Linked DNA regions of Homo sapiens. The protein of the gene in region 1 interacts with the protein of each later gene in a pairwise test. Each region holds a gene or a part of one and is shown on either strand. Other genes may lie near its edges. The genes, in order: CDC14B and DLC1.

Region 1 (3,821 bases):
CTTCATATGTGTGTGGGGTCCTTGGTGAGGGTTTTTCCTGTACATTTTTCTCCATAGTTGCAAGCCCATGATGCCACTTTGAAATGCTTGCCTATGTTATTTAAAACCTAGGGGTGCTGGCCTTGGAAGCTCTCAGCTGTCCCTTGTTTACCTTGGTCCTCATGAGCCTTTATGGGTGGGAAGGCGACATCAGGGATACTTTTTCTCCATGAATAATCAGCATGGGGCATCCTCAGGAGCGCGACAGCAGATGTAAAGCCCAGGATGCCAGACTTGTCCATAGTTACTAAAGTGGTGTATTTCTTTACATTTGCCATGTTGCAGATCATTTGTTTTGATAAGCATGACATGATGGCTTAATGACATTATGTTGTTTTGGGGCAACAATGAACTGGTCTAAACTATATTTTGGGTTTTTCGTTTGTTTCTTTGGGGAATGATTTTCTAATTATAGAGGAAGATTTAGCCTGAGAATAGGAAATGTTGTAGTACTGAGTGTATGTATGTCTATGTGTACATTCTTGTGAATGTGTGTTAGTTGGGATTCAACCTGATGGAGCATCCAAGATTGTTAGAAAAATATGCAGAAGCAAAGTACATGACCATGGTATTTTTTGTAGGCTGTTCTTTAGTAAATGCTCCCACTTGTTGCCATTGGATTTCTTCCTTCTAGTTACTTCCTTTTTCATTGTGGGACACCAGATTTCCAGCCTTCTTTTTTGCGGGGAGGGAGTGTGATGGACATAGATCATTTATTCAGTAAGCATCTTGTAATATGGTAAGGAAGTATGATATAATATACCATTTATATTGGCAGAGAACAGGTTTTCTTTTCAATTAAAAGTAATTCCTCACTAGTGTCTCGTCATAAAAATTCTGAAGTAGAATTACACCTAAGGCATGTGTCATTATGGGTTGCTCCCCTGGGAGGTTCTTCTTAAAAGACCCAAGGCAAAGAATTGAGTTTTACAATATGCAGTGTTATGTGAATGAATGTAGGGCATCCATTTTGATTATAGGCATTTATTAAGCATTTCTTTTGCAACTTAGTGGTACTTTAGTCAACTATACTTTTTTAAAAATGGTGCCTTTTGGCCAGGTGTGGTGGCTCATGCCTGTAATCCCAGCACTTTGGGAGGCCAAGGTGGGCAGATCACCTGAGGTCAGGAGTTCAAGACCAGCCTGGCCAATATGGTGAAACCCCGTCTCTACAAAAATACAAAAACTAGCCGGGCATGATGGTGGGAGCTGTAGGCATTATAGGATCCCAGCTACTCGGGAGGGTGAGGCAGGAGGATCGCTTGAACCCGGGAGGCAGAGATTGCATTGAGCCGAGATCGTGCCATTGCACTCCAGCCTGGGTGACAGAGTGAGACTCTATCTCAAAAAACAAACAAACAAACAAAAATAGTGCCTTTGTATAATTTACTTAACTCCAAATGCCATTTTGTTTTTAATTTCCTTATTAAAAGTCTTCACCTAAGGCCTTAATGGTTTTTCTTTGGAAGTATTATGGTGGCTCCAGGTAATCATCCAGATACTAATTCTGGATGTGGTGGAGGAGGCAGGCAGCACCCTCGAGCAGTGCTTCTCAGACTTCAGTGTGCAGGAGGCACCCGGGCGCTTGTTGAAATATGGGTTATGATTGGTGGGGTGGGGGTGGGGCCCAAGAGTTCACATTTCTATCCGAGGCTGCTGGTCCAGGGACCACACATTGAATTGCAAGCCCTAGGAAACTGATGCTTTTGTGGGTTGATTTTAGCTGTGTCTGGGATTTTTTGTTTTGTTTTTCAGAATCAGCATCATCAGTTTATGTTTTAATATTTTGTTGCCTGCTGTTCAAAAGTCAAGTTGAGAGTCAGGGGATACAAATCCTGCTTAGTCAAAAGTTTTTGTTAAATAGGAAATTTCCTTTAGTCACCCTCTGAATCTGCTACTCTCATTAACGTGAGTTCAAATCTAGCTGGGCGTGGCTGTGCGCACCTGTAGACCAGGCTATGCGGGAGGCTGAGGCAACAGGACTACTTGAGCCCAGGAGTCTGAGGCTGCAGTGAGCCATGATCACTGCATCCAGCCTGGGTGACAGAGTGAGACCCTGTCTAAATAAATAAGTAAAATCAAGTACAATGGTAAAAGTTAAAAAACAAAGAGGTAGCTCAGGATTCCTTTTGGTAATATCCCAAAAACAATATATATAAATAGCCCCACATAACACAAATAACAAAGTTTTAGGCCACACTTTTAAAGAAGAAAGCGAAATGCTAGTTTTTCTAAGCTCTGAGTTATGTGTATAGACCCGAGGGGATTTTTGATGAGTCTCAGCAAATCTCCTTCCTCCTCCCTTACAACATTTTGCTTATCCCCGTCTCTGCTTTTTCAAACCCTCTCTGCTATTATTTGCAGTTTTTTGGCCCTAGAAAAGATCAATTGAAGATTTTCTTTCTTTCCCTCTTGTGTCTATGTTGTTATTTTAGGAATAGAAGTCCCTGAGGGACTGTTCTCAACAGTTGCTTGGGTTGAAAAATACAAAATCAATTTCTTCATCCAAGTTTGACTCATTGATTTCTGTGAGCAAGTTATTTTGCTTTAGCATTGGCACTTAGCCTTATGAAAATACAGTACATGCAAGAAGGAAAGTTAGTGAGAAATACACAAGTACTAGTGATTCTTAGGAGAAGGTTATAGTACATAAAATATTATTCCAATGATTGGTTTCTCTTTTTTTTTTTTTTTTTTTTTTTAAGACAGAGTCTTGCTCTGTTGGCCGGGCTGGAGTGCAATGGTGTGCCCTCGGCTCACTGCAACCTCTGCCTCCCAGGTTCAAGTGATTCTGCTGCCTGAGCCTCCGGAGTATCTGGGATTATGCACCACCACACCCAGCTAATTTTTTGTATTTTTAGTAGAGACAAGGTTTCACCATGTTGGCCAGGCTGGTCTCGAAATCCTGACCTCAAGTGGTACACCCACCTCAGCCTCCCAAAGTGCTAGGATTACAGGCATGAACCACCGGCGCCTGGCCGGTTTCTCTTTTATAAATGGTCAGTTTTGGGGGAGAGTTTAAGTTTTTAGTGATTATAAAATGGCCATTTGCTCAGCCTGTCTGATCCTGACTACAATGATGACAGGAAACCATGTGGCACCATGACATTGAGCTGATCTTCAGGACGTGATGACAAGTATATTGTCTGTGCTAAAATGGATTTGGTAGATTGCATAACTTGAGCCATGAGGCCTGTCGTTCTGCATACTGATGGTTTTGGTAGGTTTGGAGATGAGTATATCTGTTAGCAATGGAAAATAATTCTTTTTTTATTTTTATTTTTTATTTTTATTTTTGAGACAGAGTATCGCCCTGTCGCCCAGGCTGGAGTAAAGTGGTGCGATCTCGGCTCACTGCAAGCTCCGCCTCCTGGGATCATGCCATTCTCCTGCCTCAGCCTCCCAAGTAGCTGGGAATACAGGCGCCCACCACCACGCCCGGCTAAATTTTTGTATTTTTAGTAGAGACAGGGTTTCACTGTGTTAGCCAGGATGGTCTCGATCTCCTGACCTCGTGATCTGCCCACCTTGGCCTCCCAAAGTGCTGGGATTACAGGTGTGAGCCACTGCACCCGGCCGGAAAATAATTCTTAAGCCATGAGGTTTACTAGAGGAAAAAGTAACCATCTATAATGCTGACACTTGGACATTCGGGCCATTCTGCCTTTAAGGAACTGAAGGTGAAGGCTGGGATCGGTAGAGAGTTCTCTAGGGCTCCCAGACCATTTATTCATTCCATTTAAATATTCACCCCTGTGATCTTTATGTATATTAGTAGCTTG
Region 2 (3,821 bases), on another chromosome or scaffold:
TTTTTAGTAGAGACGGGGTTTCACCATGTTGGCCAGGCTGGTCTCGAGCTCCTGACCTTATGATCCACCCGGCTTAGCCTCCCAAAGTGCTGGGATTACAGGCGTGAGCCACTGCGCCCGGCCACATTTAAATAGTTCTTAAAGTTGACTGGGGCATTCCAACTGCAATGGGATACAGAGCTAGAGATGAGTAGAGGAGAGAGATCAAATAAGATGAAGACAAAAGGTCAAGGAAACAATGGACTTAGCCCTCACCTGTGGGAGGGGGCCTGTGTATTCAGGCAGATAAAGATGATGACACCCTTTACTCCAACTCCCTGGGACTCCTTTCCCACACTCCTCAGAAGTTGCTCCCCCACCATGCAAACACAGCCCCTACAAGCTGCCCTGTTCCCAGTAGGAACCTATTTAATTAAATGGTTTGAATCACCTGGATTTCATCAAAAGCATATCTCTTTAATGTTTTTTTGTGTGTTGTTGACAAAACTCTGAGATACTCTGGTGACCAAAGTAAAAACACTCTTAATCCACTTAACAATAAACAGATTCCAGTGAAAATTTTTTTTTCTCTCTTCTTTGGGTTTCCTTGAATAATACCTTGAAGAAAAATATATAAATATTTGAACTGTTCCCCTCCTGTATTTCTTCTACCTAGGGTAATGCAAAGAAAACAAAGTTTGGGCAAACCAGATCAGAAAGATTTGAATGAAAACCTAGCTGCCACTCAAGGGCTGGCCCATATGATCGCCGAGTGCAAGAAGCTTTTCCAGGTAAGGAATTGAGAAGTTTGGCTCCTTTATTAAGGATAATGTGAATAGGTACAAAATCTTAGGCTTGACCCTTGTTCATGTCTTACCTGAAGACCTTTTCCACAGCTGGAGACGGTATAAATAGCCTGAGAATGTCTTATTTACATATATTATAATGTATCAGCTAGAGTTAATCATGTTTAATGAAATTGTCCCTTTACTTGGAAAAGCAGCCGGGCGCAGTGGCTCACGCCTGTAATTCTAACACTTTGGGAGGCTGAGGTGGGTGGATCACTTGAGCTCCGGAGTTCAAGACCAACCCGGGCAACATGGTGAGACCTCATCTCTACAAAAAAAAATTTAAAAATTAGCCGGGTGTGGTGGTGCACACCTGTAGTCTCAACTACTTGGGAGGCTGAGGTGGGAGGATCACCTGAGCCCAGGGATGTGGAGGTTGCAATGAACCAATATTTTGCCACTGCACTCCACTAGGTAACAGAATGAAACTCTCTCTCAAAAAAAAAAAAAAGAAAGAAAGAAAGAAAAAGCAACAAATTATCTGGAATTAAACTGCTGTATCCACTTCCGTATCTGAGAAACCTGCTTTGACCAATGTAATTCACTCCCCCTACTCTAACTTTCCAAAGACCTTACATGGAAATAAGATTTCAGATACATTTATGGAGGTGATCTGTTCATATCCTCGTGATAACACGTGCGGTCAGCATGATAGCCCACCTCCGGCGGGAAGATGCCTGCACTGCTTTAAGGACCAGGCCATTGTTCCTACCCAGTCTTTTCCACTGATGGGCATTGAGATTGAGTACAGGTGGACTCACCTCCTTTCTGTCTGTCATGTTCCGCACAGGTTCCCGAGGAAATGAGCCGATGTCGTAATTCCTATACCGAACAAGAGCTGAAGCCCCTCACTCTGGAAGCACTCGGGCACCTGGGTAATGATGACTCAGCTGACTACCAACACTTCCTCCAGGACTGTGTGGATGGCCTGTTTAAAGAAGTCAAAGAGAAGTTTAAAGGCTGGGTCAGCTACTCCACTTCGGAGCAGGCTGAGCTGTCCTATAAGAAGGTAAGGCTTCACCCTGTTGTCGGCTAGTTGAGTCCAGGAGTCGAAGCTTGGGTCCATCAGAGATAACACGCTTTTGCCAACTAATCTGTCTGGGGATCTGTAGCCCACAACCTCCCTTGTAGAGCTGGGCACCGGGGTGAGTAAGATCCCCGTGGTGAGAGTGGAAACCGGGCAAAGCAAGAGTAATTTTCTTCCTGTGTAACACTTGGGAGAGGATTTCAACTATTTCTAATGAACTCCTTTGGCTCTACAGAATCACACTAGACTTCCCTAGAATGTTTTGCTAATGGCATTGAGATGCGGAACATCCTATGACACGCTTCGATTTTTCCATAATTTGGTCAGAATCCCTTTGCACTCTTCTCTGTTCTTAGTTACTGTTCTCTTGGCCCTTTAATGAGCGGGGATCCCTTAGGGGGAAATTAACTCCAGTTAGGACTGGTAAACCTCTTGAGGGCAGAGGCATCTTGTAAGGCTCAGCAGGATAGGTCCATCGGAGGTATATGTTGATGCCGCCTCTACCATCTTGAAAATAAACAAACAGTGGGAGTAGGCTGGGTGGCCTTGCCGGCTTTGGAAATGAGTGCAAATGTCTGATGTTTTTGTTTTTATTTATTTATATTTTTTGAGATGGAGTCTTGCTCTGTCACCCAGGCTGGAGTGCAGTGGCATGATCTCGGCTCACTGCAACCTCTGCCTCCCGGTTTCAAGCTATTCTCTTGCCTCAGCCTCCCGAGTAGCTGGCGCTACAGGTGCCCACCACCACGCCATGCTAATTTTTGTATTTTTAGTAGAGACGGGGTTTCACCATATTGGCCAGGCTGGTCTCGAACTCCTGACCTTGTGACTGCCCACCTTGGCCTCCCAAAGTGCTGGGATTATAGGCGTGAGCCACCATGCCCTGCCAGTGACTGATATTTCTTTATTGCATGCACTCTGATATAGGTCCCAGAAAAAAAAAAACAAATGTCATCATTTTTTTCTTTTTTCTTTTGAGATGGAGTTTCATTCTCATCACCCAGGCTGGAGTGCAGTGGTGTGATCTCAGCTCACTGCAAAGTGCCTCCTAGGTTCAAGTGATTCTCCTTCCTCAGCCTCCTGAGTAGCTGGACTTACAGGTGCCTGCCACCACGCCTGGCTAATTTCCATATTTTTAGTAGAGACAGGGTTTCACCATGTTGGCCAGGCTGGTCTTGAACTCCTGACCTCAGATGATCCACCCGCCTCGGCTTCCCAAAGTGCTGGGATTACAGGAATGAGCCACTGCACCCGGCTCAAATGTCATCATTTTGACTCGAGTTGACAACAGCTTTTTTTCACTTTCTGGCTTGCTCTTAAATATGCTTGGGGACAGCAGCCTATTTAAGTCATAGATTTATTAGCCCCCAATATTTCTTTATATACTGATTATATAGTATTATTTATATCATTTAATCAATTAACGTTGATTATATGTAACTAAAATTGTTAGTCTAACTAACAATTCGACTTCAAAAACTAGGTGTGTATGGATTGCCTTGGCACTGAAAAATACATCCTCTTTCCAGGTGAGCGAAGGACCCCCTCTGAGGCTTTGGAGGTCAGTCATTGAAGTCCCTGCTGTGCCAGAGGAAATCTTAAAGCGCCTACTTAAAGAACAGCACCTCTGGGATGTAGACCTGTTGGATTCAAAAGTGATCGAAATTCTGGACAGCCAAACTGAAATTTACCAGTATGTCCAAAACAGTATGGCACCTCATCCTGCTCGAGACTACGTTGTTTTAAGGTGAGCGCTTCCCAGTTGTTTTTTTGTGACAAGGATGACTCCATATATGAACCAAGCCTATATGTCACTGATCTTACAAGATGGTATAATTATTTAAAGTAGAGGCCGGGCATATGGTGGCTCACACCTGTAATCCCAGCACTCTGGGAGGCCAAGGTGGGAGGATCACTTGAGGCCAGCAGTTCAAGACCAGCCTGGGTAATATAGCAAGACCCTATCT

The links.
Region 2: the proteins of CDC14B (region 1) and DLC1 interact in a two-hybrid assay, tested with the Homo sapiens proteins (one large-scale study listed by BioGRID and IntAct).

What each region holds. Positions count from the first base shown.
Region 1 is NC_000009.12:96,518,651-96,522,471, reverse strand, and holds part of CDC14B (dual specificity protein phosphatase CDC14B), read left to right. Parts: intron 1-3,821.
Region 2 is NC_000008.11:13,088,267-13,092,087, reverse strand, and holds part of DLC1 (rho GTPase-activating protein 7), read left to right. Parts: intron 1-655; coding exon 656-770; intron 771-1,617; coding exon 1,618-1,836; intron 1,837-3,383; coding exon 3,384-3,601; intron 3,602-3,821. UniProt on the Homo sapiens protein: Functions as a GTPase-activating protein for the small GTPases RHOA, RHOB, RHOC and CDC42, terminating their downstream signaling.